Linked DNA regions of Homo sapiens: region 1 is linked to region 2. Evidence: fine-mapped expression QTL. Tissue or cell type: whole blood. Region 2 holds a variant in brackets; the other region holds the start of a gene. All regions are shown on one strand. Distances are from middle to middle.

Region 1 (8,108 bases), 190 kb after region 2:
AAAATTATGGAAAGTAACCTTGCTGCAAAACTAGTTTTCAACACATAAGCAAATTGTTAAAAGATTCTCAACAGTAAAAGAAGTCCTGAAATAATACCTAATTGAAATTTCACTTTTTCATTGGAAGAAAAATAAACATTAACATTTCAAAATTAATTAATTTATTTATTTATTTATTTATTTATTTATTCATTTATTTATTTTGAGACTGAGTCTCGCTCTGTCGCCCAGGCTGGAGTGCAGTGGCGCGATCTCAGCTCACTGCAAGCTCTGTCTCCTGGGTTCACGCCATTCTCCTGCCTCAGCCTCCTGAGTAGCTGGGACCACAGGTGCCTGCCACCACGCCCGGCTAATTTTTTGTATTTTTAGTAGAGACAGGGTTTCACCGTGTTAGCCAGGATGGTCTCGATCTCCTGACCTCGTGATCCACCCGCCTCGGCCTCCCAAAGTGCTGGGATTACAGGCGTGAGCCACCACGCCCAGCTCAAAATTTATTTTAAAATACTCTAATATTTAATCTGAGATAATTTCCCCTGAAACATAACTGTGCCATACACAAGAGTCAGAAAAGGTGGCATCAGGCCGGGCACGGTGGCTCACACCTGTAATCCCAGCACTTTGGGAGGCCGAGGTGGGCAGATCACGAGGCCAGGAGTTTGAGACCAGCCTGGCCAACATGGTGAAACCCCATCTCTACTAAAAATACAAAAGTTAGCCAGGCATGGTGGCGCATGCCTGTAATCCCAGCTACTCGGGAGGCTGAGGCAGGAGAATTGCTTGAACCCAGAAGGTAGAGGTTGCTGTGAGCCGAGATTGCGCCACCGCACTCCAGCCTGGGTGACAGAGTGAGACTCCATCTCGGAAAAAAAAAAAAAGAAAGAAAGAAAAGGTGGCAGCAATAGATTAAGATGATTTAAGGCTTTGAATTCATTATGAAATGAGTGCATAGCAGAGGTAATATAATTTGAAAAAAATTGCAATCCACTTATCCTACCTACTTTTTAAATAACTCACCTAAATTTTTTCATCCTTTTATTATAACTTAGAATAAAGTGCAGAGACACAAATCAAAACAAAACAAAAATCCACAAGATGGTAAAATCTCTGTTATGGAGCTTCTTTCCCCTGGTAAGAGAAGCAACAAGCAAGACAGATGAATAAACACAATGCATTCAGAAAGGCTTGGAAAAGATAAAACATGGACATGTGACAGAGAATGTGGGTGTTCAGGGAGGCTTCGGAGAAGGTGACATATGAACAGAGATCTGAATGGTGGAGGTGGGGGCAGCCATGCCAAGGACTGGGGGAAGGTGGTGTGCACAGAAGGACCAGAGGTGTTGGAGTACCCAGATACTGTTTACTCTGTGGATACACAGAGTGAATGGCAGGAAGGGTGGTAAGAGATGACATCAGGGAAGAAGGCAGAGGCACCTCATCTAAGGCTTGTAGGACATGGCAATTCAAAATCCCTAGATTCTGATCCACATGATGATCACAGAATGAGGACTTACTCGGAACATGCTTGTTCACTCAGCTCATGCCAGGCATAGGAAACCACTGACCAAATAAATACATACTGATCATCTATTATGTGCTTAAGCACCCTTACGGAAAAACTTTTTAAAGCGATGCCATGGATTTTCACTCAGGAATTTAAAGAATGTTTTGTCCACTGTGATTTTCAAAATAATAGCTAAGAACAAGGTTAAGATCACTTCACTAATAACCTCCAGAATGACAGACAATAACAATGATTTCCGTTTCAACATCACATTTATATGCAATACCCATATTTATTATGCAACATCATAAGAGCTTTTCTATTAAGATCTTGGTATTCAGCAACAAACTCTTTCTTGACTTAGTTCTAAGCCAAATATGACCCCTGATCTTGCTTGGATGGGAGATTTGTAAAGTATTATGAAAAACACACTTAGTTTTTCAGCCCTATAACATTAGCATACATATGAATGTGTTCAGTAACCATAAACATCCAATATACATAAGGTGGTATTCATACGTTTTCTGGTTGCAACAATTACCCTTCATTTTGTATGAAGAGAATAAAGGGAAGGAAACCAAGATGAACCACGCCTGTAATAGGGACTAGACGTGGAGTTCCCACTTAATGCTCCCAATAGCCCCATGAGTAAGTATTATCTCTGTTTTACTGAAGTGCAGATAAGTTGGTTAACTAGCTAGGTCAAAGCTCACACTCATTTCCAAATTAATCCTTAAAGCTTCCTGACTGGGAGGAGCTGATTAATTAACATTAATTTATTCATCATGCACTTTTCTAAAGCTCTTGAAAAGCCTATTGATCCACACTGGACTTATCAAAGGAAATGCACAAAAATTTCCAAAGGGAAATTTGCCCTCTATTGCTGGTCAAAACAGCTTCACTGAAGAAGAGACATACCAAAATCTAGAAACTGATTTTCTTTAAAAGTCTGACAAGAAAGAAAAATCTGACAAGAAAATTCGACTAGCCTAAAGTACAAATGCACAGCCTCGCAGAGGGTGGTTTACATGAGAGTTGAGATGTTACTGGCTCGCAAAATGAGGGTGTGCAGAAGGAGGGTTCAGAGACAGCCCAGCTTTGTCTTAGACAAAATTAATGTTCCCAGTCTGAACAATGTGAACATGGGCACATCTTGTTTCTGCCCCTTTGATAGGCAGCAGATGTCACAACCAGTCATAAATGCAGGTCCACAGAAGTTTTCAAGAAAGGAACCTTGGGTTTGTATCCAAGTTCTGAGCTGCTGCTGCCTCCAACACTGAGGTCCACTGAAATATTCCTGTCAGTAGACTTCGAGCAGGCAGTTATTATAAAAACGCAGTGAAATCTGGGGCAAGGGGTGGGGGGGGGGAATCTCTTGCATTTTATTTAAATCTCTTGCACTTTATTTAAGCCCACACAAGTACTCATTTAGTTCTTGTTTATTTTGCTCTTTAATTCCTGGAATTATTCAGTCAGTGGTGTTTTTGGAAGTCTGTGTTCTCCAGAGTCTCCCCATCCACATATTTTTGACATGCTTGTATGGAAATTTTTTAAAAATAAAGACCACGGTCAATAGAATTGTGCATTTTCCTCACGAGTCGTTTTGTAAATGAATGATCACGTGTGTGATTTTTCAGATGTCACTTGCACAACAGCAGACTAGAACTTTAAAACTCCTTGATTTCAGTGAAATCCAAGCTTTGCCTATTCCCGTTCCTCTTCCATCCAGGGGTTATTTGGCTGAACTGTTTTCCTGTTTAAACAACTTGAACACCAACCAACTAGACAAACAGCGCTGCTTGCAAAAGAGGGCCTACTTCCTCCGGCCCCCACCCCCATCCCAGCAACCCCACTCCGGCCGCGCACCAGCAGGGGAAATCGCCACCAACGTCCCCGCTTCTCATTTCAGCCCGAAATTGCCCTGAAACGGCGCCCGTCGTGCGACTCCAAGTCCCTCAGTTCTCCGGCCAACTGGCCTAATTTGGGGGTTCCCTCCCCGCGGAGTGGGGTCTGCGGTGAGGATGTGGACTCCGAGGAAGACAGAGCCCTCCCTTATTCTCGGCCACCTCCCCTCCCCGAGGGCAGGCGGGTGAGAGGTGACCCGGAGCCAGGACCCACGGGGGACGGGCGTGCAGGGAAGGGCGGGATGGCCGGCCGGGTGTTGCGTCTGCGGGCCGCCCTCGGGTGCGCGGGGACGAAGAGCGTGCGTTGGGAAGGGGGCGAAGGCGGTCGCGCACGGTCCCGGCGAGGGACTACGTAAGGGCTTACCCGCGACGGCAGCAGCGGCGAGGCCCAGCAACGGCAGCAGGAGCGCGGGCAGCGCGGCCCGGAGCATGACGGCGGGTGCGGGTGGGCGGCAGCGGCTGCGCGGCCGGAGAGGAGCGGGGCGGGGCGGGAGCGGGGGCGGTGCTTCTCGCGTGCGAGTTTAATCCCCCCCCCGGGCGGAACGTGAACGGCACTGGGGGCTCCCACCAGGAGAACCCGGGTGTCCCGTCCCGCAGGAGCGGCTGGCGCGCGGCCTTCTGGAACTTCTAATTTTTGTTTTTTAAACTTTTCATTTGAATTGAAATAATTTAGGACTTTCGAAAATGTTGCAAAAACAGCACAAGAGATTTCCGTAACCCTTCAGCCAGCTTCTCTAAATATTGACATTGTATATAACGCCAGTGCAGTGATCAAACACAGGGCACTCGCACTGGGATAATGCGATTAGCTAATCTACAGCACTTACCACATTTCATTAATTGCCCCTCTAAGGGTCCTTTTCTGTTCCAAGATTCAATCCAGGATCATACATTGCATGTCGTGTCTCCTTAGTCTCCCTTTAATCTAGGACGGTTCTCTGTCATTCTTTTTCTTTCACGATCAAACCACATTTAAAAAGTACTGGCCAGTCGTTTTGTAGAATGTCCCTCAGTTTCATTTTGTCTGACATTTCCTTCTAATTGGATTCAGGTTGCGCTTTTTTGGGAAAGAGTTCCCCAGAAGTGATGTACGTGCTCGAGAAGGACAAGATGTCGATGTCTCATCACTGATGTTAACTTGGATCAGTTGGTTAAGGTGGCGTTTGCCAGCCTTCTTCTTTGGATCTACTGGCCAGAATCCTCCTTTTCAAAGACCCCTTTCAGTGGACTATGTCTCTTAGACAACTTTTCTCTGTTACCAGCTCCTGGATGAAGAGTCTTTAAGCTATGTTTGCTACAATGTATGCATAAACTGTGCAATTATACTTCACCCATGAGGGCCTCTGGACAACACTAGCCAGGGTCAAGCAAGGGTGCTTGTTTAAGCCTCATGTCATTGGCAAAAGAGTTCTATAAAATCAAGTCTAAACTCAACAACGTGAAAACAAATGACCCAGTTAAAAAAAATGGTCAGATGATCTGAATACACACGTCATCAAAGAAGTTATATAATGGCAAATAGATGAAAAGATGCTCAACATCATATGTCATTGCTGAATTGTATATGAAAACAAAAATGAAATACCACTACATACCTATTAGATACCAGAATCCAAAAACACTGACAAGACCACATGCTGGCAAAGATGTGGAGCAAAAAGAACTCTCATTCAATGCTGGTGCAAATGCAAAATGGTACAGCCACTTTGGAAGACAATTTGGAAGCTTCTTCCAAAACTAAACGTACTCTTACCATACCATCTAGCAATCACAACTCCTTGGTATTTATCCAAATGAGTTAAAAACTTACATACACACAAAAACCTGCACATGAATGTTGATAGCAGCTTTATTCATAATTGCCAGAACCTAGAGGCAAACAAGATGTCCTTCAATAAGTGAATGGATAAACAATGGCACATCCAAACAATGAAATGTTACTCAGTACCAAAATTAAATGAGCTATCAAGCCACAAAAAGACATGGAAGAACTTTAAATATGTATTGCTAAGAGAAAGAAGCCAATCTGAAAAGACTGCATACTATATGATTCCAACTATATGACATTTTAGACAAGGCAAAACTATGGAGACAGTAAAAAGATAAATGGTTGCCAGGGGTTGGGGTGGGAAGAAGGAGGGGATGAATAGATGGAACACAGAGGATTTTTAGAGCCATGAAATTATTCTGTAGGATACTGTAATGGTAGATGTGTATCACTATACATGTGTCAAAACCCATAGAATGCACAAAACGAAGATGAACCCTAGTGTGGACAATGGACTTTAGTTAATAATGTGTCAATATTGGCTCATCCACTGTAACAAATGTACCTGCTAATGCAAGATGTTAATAATTGGGGAAACTGGGGTATGTGTAAGGAGGTACATGGGAGCTCTGTACCTTCTGCTACATTTTTTGTATACATCTAAAACTGCTCAAAAATTAGTCTATTTTTAAAAAAATAAAATCTGACCCTTTCCAACTCTTTCTAACCCTTTCCACACTTCTGATAATCCAGAGTGGTTACACCAAGGAAATTTGACCCAAGGGGTCTATAAGGAGAGTCATAGAGTGTTAGAAGTGGTACTAGTAAGGAAATTGAGTGACCCAAAGAAGGGATGTGATTCCCCCGTGGGCTCACAGAGAATGCCAACAAATGAACCAGAGCCCAGCTCCTCTGCTGGACTCTCCCACCTATTCCAGGTTCTGCCCCTTTGCCAAAGTATTAAGGTCTTGCTTAACTTATTTACTTCCATTTTTCTTCTCAGGCTGCCAATACTGAGTTTATTATATACCAAACTCCAGACCAGAGCAAATCCTTCCAAAGATACTCTATATTGGAATATTGACACATCTTGATTCTGGACCCTTTTGCCCTCCTAACTACAGAAGTAAAATGAACAGTTCTAAGCAATCATGTAATTGTGAAAGTTATCTCTTCCACCCCCACCTCAGGCACCAAAGTATATTTTATCAATGTGGTTTTGTGTTAAGCTACTTTTCAAATATTTTTATATTTACAATAGAATTGACATCCTAATGAATCAATCTAATTAAGGCAAAACCCATTTTAACACTGTCATTTTAAGTCATTTGTACTAAAGAAAATTATATTATTTTATTGTTAACTCTGGTGCACACTGCCTCATTTTTGATGCTAATCTGATGAAATAGACTACTTATTGCCTGTATGTGGGTACTGTTATATTTCGCTCTCCCATTTACTCTCCAGTTACACCTCATACCCTTAATTTTCCTTCACTCTGTCTCCAACTTACATCCTCTTTTGGCTCATGCCAGACTTCAGTCCCTTGCCTGCATTTTTCTCAGCCTTTTATTTCTCCCTTCTCCACCCAGCCGAAATACCACATCCTCTGTCCCCTTGTTCCCCTGGTGTGCTCACCTGGCCAACTCGGAATCTGTGGTCTCCGCTTTCTTCTTCATGCTTTTTTTTTTTTTTAGACGGAGTCTCACTCTGTCCCCCAGGCTGGAGTGCAGTCGCGCTATCTCAGCTCACCTCAACCTCCACTTTATAGGTTCAAGCAATTCTCCTGCCTCAGCCTCCCGAGTAGCTAGGATTACAGGCGTGTATCACCACACCTGGCTAAGTTTTTTCTATTTTTAGTAGAGGTGGGGTTTCACCATGTTGGCCAGGCTGGTCTTGAACTCCTGACCTCAAGTGATCTGCCCGCCTTGGCCTCCCAAAGTGCTGGGATTACAGGCATGAGCCACCTCGCCTGGCCCGTGCTCTCTTTTTCCTCAACTTTACTGAAGTTAACTGAGGACAGGTGGAGGAAATCAATCAGTTCTCCCGATGGCTGTCACTATAAACAATATGGCTTTTAATTTCATCTGGGCCTTCTATGCCTCTTCTGCAATCCTTGTATTTGATTTTACCTTAGTCACTGTCCTCTCCTATTTCTCTCATTGAGTCTTTCAAATTTATTACTCTTTTCAAGCTAAGATCCCAGGCTGGGTATGGTGGCTCACACCTGTAATCCCAACACTTGGGAGGCTGAAGTGGGAGGATCACTTGAGCCCAGGAGTTTGAGAGCAGCCTAGGTAACATTGAAATCACCTGTCTCTAGGGAAAAAAAAAAGTTAATGTTGGAGGTCGAGACTGCAGTGAGCTAGAGTTGCACCACTGCATTCCAGCCTGGGCAACTGAGACAGACCCTGTCTCTAAAAAATTAAAAAACTTTTTAAAAGACCCCATCTGCTACCCATCTTTCTCAGCAGACCTTGCCTTCTAGTACACAAGAAAACAGGTGCCATTACATATAGACAAACATCTTCAAATGCTTATCTGCAGTTCTTCTCTTGTGGTCTCAGAGAGGAAGGCATGCTTCTCCAGCCCACCCAAACCAGTTCCTCTTTCTGCTTAGGACTGCCCCTCTCATTTTATCTTCTCCAAGATCTTCCATTAATGATTCCCTCTCCCCACTGCATCATCAACTTCTCTCTGTCCATTATTTTTGTTTTTGTTTTTGTTTTTTTCATCTCAGCTTCTAAACTTGTGAACCTCTTTCTCTCCCCTTTAGAAAAAAACCCTTTTTCAACCCTTCTTTCCCCTCTGGCTATGGCCCAGCCCCTTTCCTTTCTGTCTCCATCATACTTCTCGAAATCTCATGTTCCTCATCTCCTAATTTCCCTTTCAATTTTTTTTTTTTTTTTTTTTTTTTTTTTGAGACAGAGTCTTG
Region 2 (8,108 bases):
TTTAAGGTTTTCTTATGACAAATCTCTTGCAAGTAAATGTTCATCACAATACTGCAAATAAAACATTTAATATGCAATAATAATAAATTTCATTATTATTATGATGTAGTAATAATGAAGTTAGGAAAAGACTAACTACTAAAATTTATTGTCCTTGGCCAAGACATTATGTAAAAGATCTTTCATACATTTGTGTTTTGAAAATTTTTTAAATCTTTCCTTTTTCATACTCTTTTTTAGTGGGATTTCTATTTTTTTTTTTTTTTGAGACGGAGTCTCACTCTGTCACCCAAGCTGGAGTGCAGTGGTACTATCTCAGCTCACTGCAACCTCCGCCTCAAAAAAAATAATTTTTATATTTTTAGTAGAGACAGGGTTTCACCATGTTGACCAGGCTGGTCTCAAACTCCTGGCCTCAAGTGATCTGCCTGTCTCGGCCTCCCAAAGTGCTGGGATTACAGGCATGAGCCACCACGCCTGGCCCTCCTTTTTGTCCTTATGGATATGCCCGTTACTGGCAGTCCAGCAGTCTGCTTGTCTTCTGCATTCATCCGAAGGAACTAAAAGAAGTAAAAGTGTTTTTTGAGCCAGAGCCATCATCATGGAGAAAAGGGATACACATATATCACCCTCTGCTCTCTACTCAATGTTCTTAGCAGGGGGGATCATGCATTAGATTTCCAGAAAAACTGTTCACAAAAGCATAGGAAAAGAACCAAGGAAAAGGGAGGGGTTCTGGTTAATCTCAAAACAGAAGATTTGAATACCTCTAACCAGAAAGGGTAGTTTTGTCAGTTTTAACCCGGCCTTCACAAATAAGCCTATCACTGAAATGGAGGATTGAAACTGATTAACCCATCTTCTCCAGAAAAAGCCAAGCAGTCAATTTTGAAAGGAAGGATCCCATGACATTTTCTTTTCCTTCTAGTGGAAGAGGTATGGGTTGGGGTGACCTTGAAAAGGCAGAACCATCCCAGATGTCAAATGGATTGGCTCTAATATAGAGCTCTAGCTCTATATTTGTTCTATAATAGGCTTATGCAGTCCTTCTTTTCTTGGATCTTTTCTTCCTGATCTGTGAATATTCAAAATTTAATTGTTCTTGATCTAGTTCAATGCTACCTAAACCGAAGGGCCTTTTCTAATTATTCCAATGAGAAGCCATCTCTCTCCTACTATGAACTTCCATAAATTGTTATCCATAGCTCTCCCAGAGCATGCTTGGAGATAGCATTCAATAAAAGCTTAAAGAATGAAGGTAGATGCCTCCTCCTTTTCCTATTATTAATACTAGAATAATACAAATGTATCAAATATGTGCAATTCTGTGGTGGATGTCACTGAGTCACTTTACTTTTTCAAACAACGTCTAAATTTTCTGTTTTGCTGGGTTACTAATACAGTATAGAAAAATTCAGTCAGGCCAGGCGTGGTGGCTCATGCCTGTAATCCCAGCACTTTGAGAGGCCAAGGTGCGCAGATTGTTTGAGTCCAGGAGTTCAAGAGTAACCTGGGAAACATGCTAAAACCCCGTCTCTACAAAAATACAAAAATTAGCCAGGCATGGCAGCGTAAGCCTGTAGTCCCAGCTACTTGGCGGACTGAGGCGGTGGGGATCCCTTGAGCTCAGGAGGTTGAAGCTGCAGTAAACTGGGATCGTGCCACTGCACTCCAGCCTGGACAACAGAGTGAGACCCTGTCTCCAAAAAAATAAAAAGTAAAAATAAAAATCCAGTCCATTAACTCACCCTTCTTCTTTTCTAAATATAATTATGTAATGAGAACCAGAAAAGGCAGACAAATAAAATCCCAAACCTGCATTTTAGTCAAAAACTAAGAACCCCTCTTCATCAAGAAGTGGGGAAGGCAGGGAAAACCAGATTTGTTTGAATTTTCCTTCCTTTATTCTGTGATGAGATGCTAAAGAGCAGAGAAATAAATGAAAGGACAATAGTCAAAAGGGAGTGAAGAAGACATAAAATAATTTACAAAATGCCTGATATAATCTCAAATAATGGAAAGTTAACTAATTATAGTTATGATCCTATGCAACTCAAAACTAAAACACAATGCATCATCCTTTAATAACCTTTGGATTTGTTGTTTAAAAAAAAGTACAGCCTACTATCAGCTGGATTAAATTTGGCCATATATTCTGTTATATTACAAACCTATCCAGCCATTTCTGAAGCCAAGAAAGAGTAAAATGCACTCTTAGGACTGGTACTCAACCTTGAAGTGCTGAGAGCTACTTCATCATCTAGTGTGGGGACAAACACATACATGCACATGTGAGCCTAACACCATGTGTGGAAACGCATCATTGTAAATCACTCAGGTATTCACTTATTTTAATATACACAAATCAAAGCACAGCTCCCTGTGATTCCTAAAAGGAGAGCTGAAATAGCATTTAACATTTTCTCCTCCCACCCTTCTCACTAAAAGCTTGAGACACAAAGGTGTTCTCCTCTTTCCTTACAGTTATTACTGACAACATGCAGGAAACTATTATAGCTGGCCTAACTTACCAATACCACCTAAATACTGTAAGAGCATACCTGTGCTTAATACTCCAGAAGTGACTCAAAAAGCAAAAGAGACTCCTTATTAGATTTCTTCTAAAAAACTAGAGTAACTCTATAGTTTTAGGATTAGCATTATTCTAATCCAGTTATAAAGTCATGCCAATTTTCCCTTCTATCTTGCTTTACACCACCACTCATAAGCTAAAAGTATTATACTACTTTTCTACATATTAGATGACATTGTTTTAGACTAATTAATCACAATCTACTGTTAATGTTGTTTCCCAAAACTATGTATAACTAGTAAAATATTATTAGCAATATTTCCAAATCCAGGATAATTCTGTTATTGATCTATGGACAAAATCATAAAACACATATTCCAAAAATTACAATAGTTGTATAATCTAGGTTTGTTTGGTTGATTCTGGCCGTGACAGGTAGGACATGACCTTTTACACTTGTTTCCTTCAAAGCTTCTTCATTTTATTCAGCATTAAGTTTAAATTAAATATTTAAAATTGAACCTGTTCTGTGTTGCAAACACAGCTAAAATAAAGAGCTTCTGTAGCAGCAGTGACCAGATTTTAAATGCAGGTAGATCAATAAAAAAAAAAAAAAATCACCAAGCACAGGCTCCATGTGAGTGGAATGGTTTATAATAGCTTGCAAATGACTATGTGCTTGCTGTAACCAGCTGTTCTTAAATTATGAATATGCAACCAATTCATGTTAAAGCCAAATCCCAGCACTATTTCTACAGAGAAATCCCAGTAGTTTTGCTTGTTCTACATGTTAGCTGTGTTAAGGATACAAATAGCAGTAAGCTTCTGAACAAATAGGACCGAACTATTGGCATTTCATGCACTAGGTCCATTATCACAGCAGGCAATGTCAATCATTGGTACATTCCTATAACAGCTCAGGCAATATGACAATGATCTCATAGGAAAAAAAATCAAAATCTCTGCAGCATACTCAAAGTCCTTCTGACAACCTAATGCTTTCTTACTACAGCCAATCAGATTGTCAGACCTGACCTACTAGAAGACTTTCACCAAGCTTGAAACATTTAAAAACATCAATCATAAAAACAAAGACAGGACACTGAATTATACAGTATTAACCTCTAGGGTTTGCATACAAAGACCTTAGATTTATTTATGTCCTAGCGAGTTAAGAGCTTCAGTACACCGTTCTTTACACCAAACTGACTGCCAATTTGATGAACCTCTCTGCCCTCAGCAGGAGTGCACCGTCTTTGATTAATGAGTGCATGTTTGTGGAAAAGTGTTAAGAGGAGAAAACAGGAAAAAACACCCAATTATGTCTACACATAGCTGAAGTACTAATCCAAGAATTATCTTCAAACCAAATGCTCCTTTTTCTTATATACCATGCACACATGTGCACAACACAAAATTAGTAAAGGTTCTTATCTATGTTGCCAT[CATT/C]ATTATTATCCCCAATATGCAATAGTTTTTATTTGAATGAAAGGCATTCAAAAGCCAAAGTACAAGTTGAATTTTATAAATTATAAAAACTATTTTTAAAGCGTTATCTTTTAAAACAAATTGAAATACTCTTACCTTATATAGTAAAAATTTAAGTATGTGGAATAAAAACTATATTTTCACCTCATATTCTTATAAAACCCTATTAAGGTTAAAAACTCAATGTTTAACTGTAAATATCCATACTTTTAAATATTTTATATTTCAAACTCTATTATGACTGCCACAAATCAAATAGCACTCAAAATACATTTAAAAGTCATATATATTCATTTACTTTTCCTGTTTTCAATAAACATGTGGCCAATATTTTATAACTCAATATGCAGTTGAAAATGAATTAAATATATTTATTACCCATAATTTCATACTTAATACGGTCAACAGAAAAAACTGTAAATCAAAGTTTGAACTTTTAAAATGACCTTTCTATTGAGAATTACCTTCCTTCTAGAAATCTGATGCCTGAAAATTCCTACTTAAACTACAGGATGTTTATGTGTAGTACAATTAAGACTATATTATCTCTAAAGATAAACTAAGCATCAGGAGTCCTTTAAAAAAAAGTTCACATTTCATACACAATTCAATGTTCCTTAATTTGATTTATATGAATATCTACCTCAACAAAAATATGTTATGAGTAAATACATTTCTTAAATATTGAGTCATAGTCAAAGGTAACAGAATGATTTTCTTTTTAAGGAGTTGTATGGCTACTATGTAAAAAGGGTTGAGAAAGCATAATGTCTGAATATAAATCTTAGCTTTAGTCAGTAATGTACAACCTATTTAAAAGGAAAGGGTCCCTATAAACTTTGATTTCAGGAAATCATAATTCTGGAATCAATGGCATAAGTGTTAAAAATTTATATTGTAGAGGAAGTTTTGAGCAAATTATATATTCTAATCAATTTCATATTTTAAGTATTTATTTTTGTAATGGCAAATTATTTTAAGTGTTACAAATTTTATGCTCTTTGAAGAATTATTTAAATGCCTAATACACCTAAAGACCTACAAATTAAAAGTCAATAAATATTGGGACTAGAAAAATTCTCTTAACATAGTAATAAATAAACTATATTATATCCTTAAATCTTATTTACATGAATTTTTTAATGGATGTTTCTGTGTTGGGATTATCACTTTTCATTCTTCCTCTTTTCTCCCTCCCATTTCCTCTACCACCAAAAAACACCATGCAAATAATTAGAAAAAGTAGAATATATGTAGGCACCAATGGGATGACACCATTTTAGTATCACATATTTAGTATGACACCATTTTAGTATCACATATTTAGTATCACACATTTTAGTATGATAGCTGAAACTATCAATAAAAGTTATAACAATAAAAATATAATTTCATTTTTTAAAAATCATTAAATGTCTACTAGTAAGTTATTTTAGATCATAGTTTGTATGAATTTTTAAATAACATTTTAGCCTCATTATAAAGAAAAATTAAATACAAAACTGCCTCTTTCCCCAATAATTATTTCTTTTCTTTTGTGATTACTTCCTAGAACAAAAGTTTAAAGAAACAGCCAAATGGATTAACATTTATTAAAAAGGCAACAGTATTTTTAAAACTTCATGGTAAAAAATACTTAATTTTATGTAACCAAAAAAACTCTTAAAATACCTAACTAGGTAACTTAATTAATCCCCCAGGAAATCAAATATATTAATAATCACTAAAACTTGATGACGTAATTCCTCTTAAGGGTCAAAATCACCATATTAATTTGTGCTAAATCATATCTCTTCTTTTGGTAGTTCTACTCAGAAACTACAACTTAAGATCCCTTCTCTGAGAAACCTTTAAACCTAAAAGTAATCAAGTTCCAAAATATACTTTCACTAATTCAAGGAGATAAGACAGAAATCCTGAACTTTCATGCAACTGTGATATCCTACATCTTGTATAGTAACACAAAAGTAGCAACAAAGACATTAACAATTGCAGTTCAAGCTGGGAATGACTGTTCTGTTTCAATTCAATGACACCACTAATGGCTTCTTAGCAGCTCCATGAAATCAACCAGCTGTCAAGTTGATGCATCAGAAGGAACAGTTATGCACTCCCATAAGAAAAAGCAACACATCAGGATGTTTGGCAAAACATCTGCTCCTTTACACTGCAGTTCTATAATAAACATGCAAACAAAGAAATGGGAGAAAGGGCAACAGAATTAAAATTCTAAGGTTTCCATTACAGTCTTATGTGCATTTTAAATGAATGGCTTATAAAAAATAAAAACAAATTTCTACCAAGTTGAATACTTTAAGCTATTCCCAATTTTTTGAAAATGCTAAATATAATTACTCAGAGACTGTTCTAGAAAGAAAAAACCTGCATAAGAATCCATCTATTCTAAAAATTGTAAATAAACAATATTCAAGTAAAATCAGTATCATAATGTTATGTATAAAACTCAAAAATTAAAACTAAAATATATCCTTCCTTCATTTAATAAGTATTTCATAAATGATGCCAGCAGTATTCCAATAAATGCATTTCCAAGACTGAAGAGTTTAGAAGTATTTTTTCATTAGTGTTTGTAAGAGTAAATGGTACTACAATTCGGCACTAGTTTAACATGTGAGAACAGTGAAGCTACTATTATCTGGATTTTAAAATATGTACCCATTCCTGTTTCTCTCCAACCATTATAAGAACACAATATTAAGTTCTCATAAATAACTTTGTATTTTTAAAGCATACAATCTGATTTTCTAAAAAAAAAAAAAAAAAAGACTCTTCATCATCGTAGGCTTAAAATAATTTTAAATTCAACCACTTGTTTCAAATACTTGTAAAAATTACTTTTTTCTATCTGAACCATACGAGTGTCTTAATGTTGTCCAAATTACTGATTATGCAGCAGAGTGACAATAATATGTACAGTGTTTACAATAGGTGTGAGACATCAAATGTACTTAACTACCATTTTCTTAAACTGCTTATCCTCTGTTGCTTGCCATTTATAATCTGCCAAATCTTCTAGTCCTTTGTTGCATGTATAATTTAGAACCATCTGTTCTATGTGCTTTTAACTATTTAAACATTTTTCACCTACCTACAATTCACATAAATGGCAGACACTCAACTCAGTCAAGCTTTCTATATAGCATATTACATGAAGCAAATTCCTGGATAAATAGATAACACCAAAGAAGACTGCTACAGAAATAAAAACTTACCATATAGAACATAAATTTCTGTGTGTTACACAAACCTTTTCAATGTATTCAGAATTGTTTCTATTAGCTTTTTTTAAGTTAATTGTAGTCAGTGTTTTTCCCTCAACCCAGAAGACAAAGAGAATGCAAATTAAATACAGACAGTTTCATGTCCTTGTTAGAAGAGATGTAAATATGCTGACTGAAAATGACTACAGGAGACAGAATTCCACTTTCCCATTCAATATACAGTGCCTCTTATTTATATACTAGTCAGTGTATCATTAAGCTTGGTCATGTGACCAAACCAACTTTTGTGAGGCGAAAAACTATGTTAGACAAGCAAATTAAAACAGTGCTAGTTTTTGTTTATCTGTTCATAATGGCTGACAAAGAGTTTATAGCTAGCGATTATAAAATAACTTTTAAAATCAATTCTGCCTCTTAAATACTCAATAATTGTTTGACTTAATATCTGCTACTAAATTTTAAAGTATCCATTATCTTAAGGTATTTTCCATAGTCATTTCTTTTCAAAATGTAAATAAATAATAGAAAAAGAAAACCCCAGAACATTTTATTAGAAACGGGGAGCCAGATAATCTAAAATAACCATACATAAATATTAACCAAGCTAATTTTCAAAAAATCCATAAGGGAGAGTGGAGCAAATAAGAAAGGGAATATACTGACTACAGATAACAGTTGAAACCTTTAAATTAAAAAAAAAAGTACACAAAAACCAGATAAATAACAAATGACGCACAAGTTTTTTACCATTTTTTGCATATAATCTTCCACCTGTTACCAAAACATACAATACGCAGACTTCGTATACTGATTTTGAGAGCAAAACACAAAAATAAGCCACACAA

What was found. PIP is the estimated chance that this variant, and not a neighbour inherited with it, causes the effect.
Region 1: it holds the start of CD302, and the variant in region 2 is fine-mapped to the expression of CD302 in whole blood (TOPMed, PIP 0.99).

What each region holds. Positions count from the first base shown.
Region 1 is chr2:159,794,363-159,802,470 of GRCh38, forward strand. It overlaps CD302 (CD302 molecule), which reads right to left and starts at 3,846. Exons shown (of 6, transcript NM_014880.5): 1 at 3,770-3,846. The coding sequence starts at 3,836. All of the region lies in intron 33 of LY75-CD302 (LY75-CD302 readthrough), which reads right to left. LOC124906083 (a long non-coding RNA gene) reads left to right here and starts at 828. Exons shown (of 2, transcript XR_007087273.1): 1 at 828-3,590; 2 at 4,457-5,890.
Region 2 is chr2:159,606,672-159,614,779 of GRCh38, forward strand. The region is part of intron 1 of BAZ2B (bromodomain adjacent to zinc finger domain 2B); the gene reads right to left. Among named protein-coding and RNA genes, the nearest start is that of BAZ2B-AS1, 4.6 kb to the right of the region's middle. RefSeq lists an enhancer at 7,828-8,108. The variant CATT/C (reference allele first, on the strand shown) is at 3,980.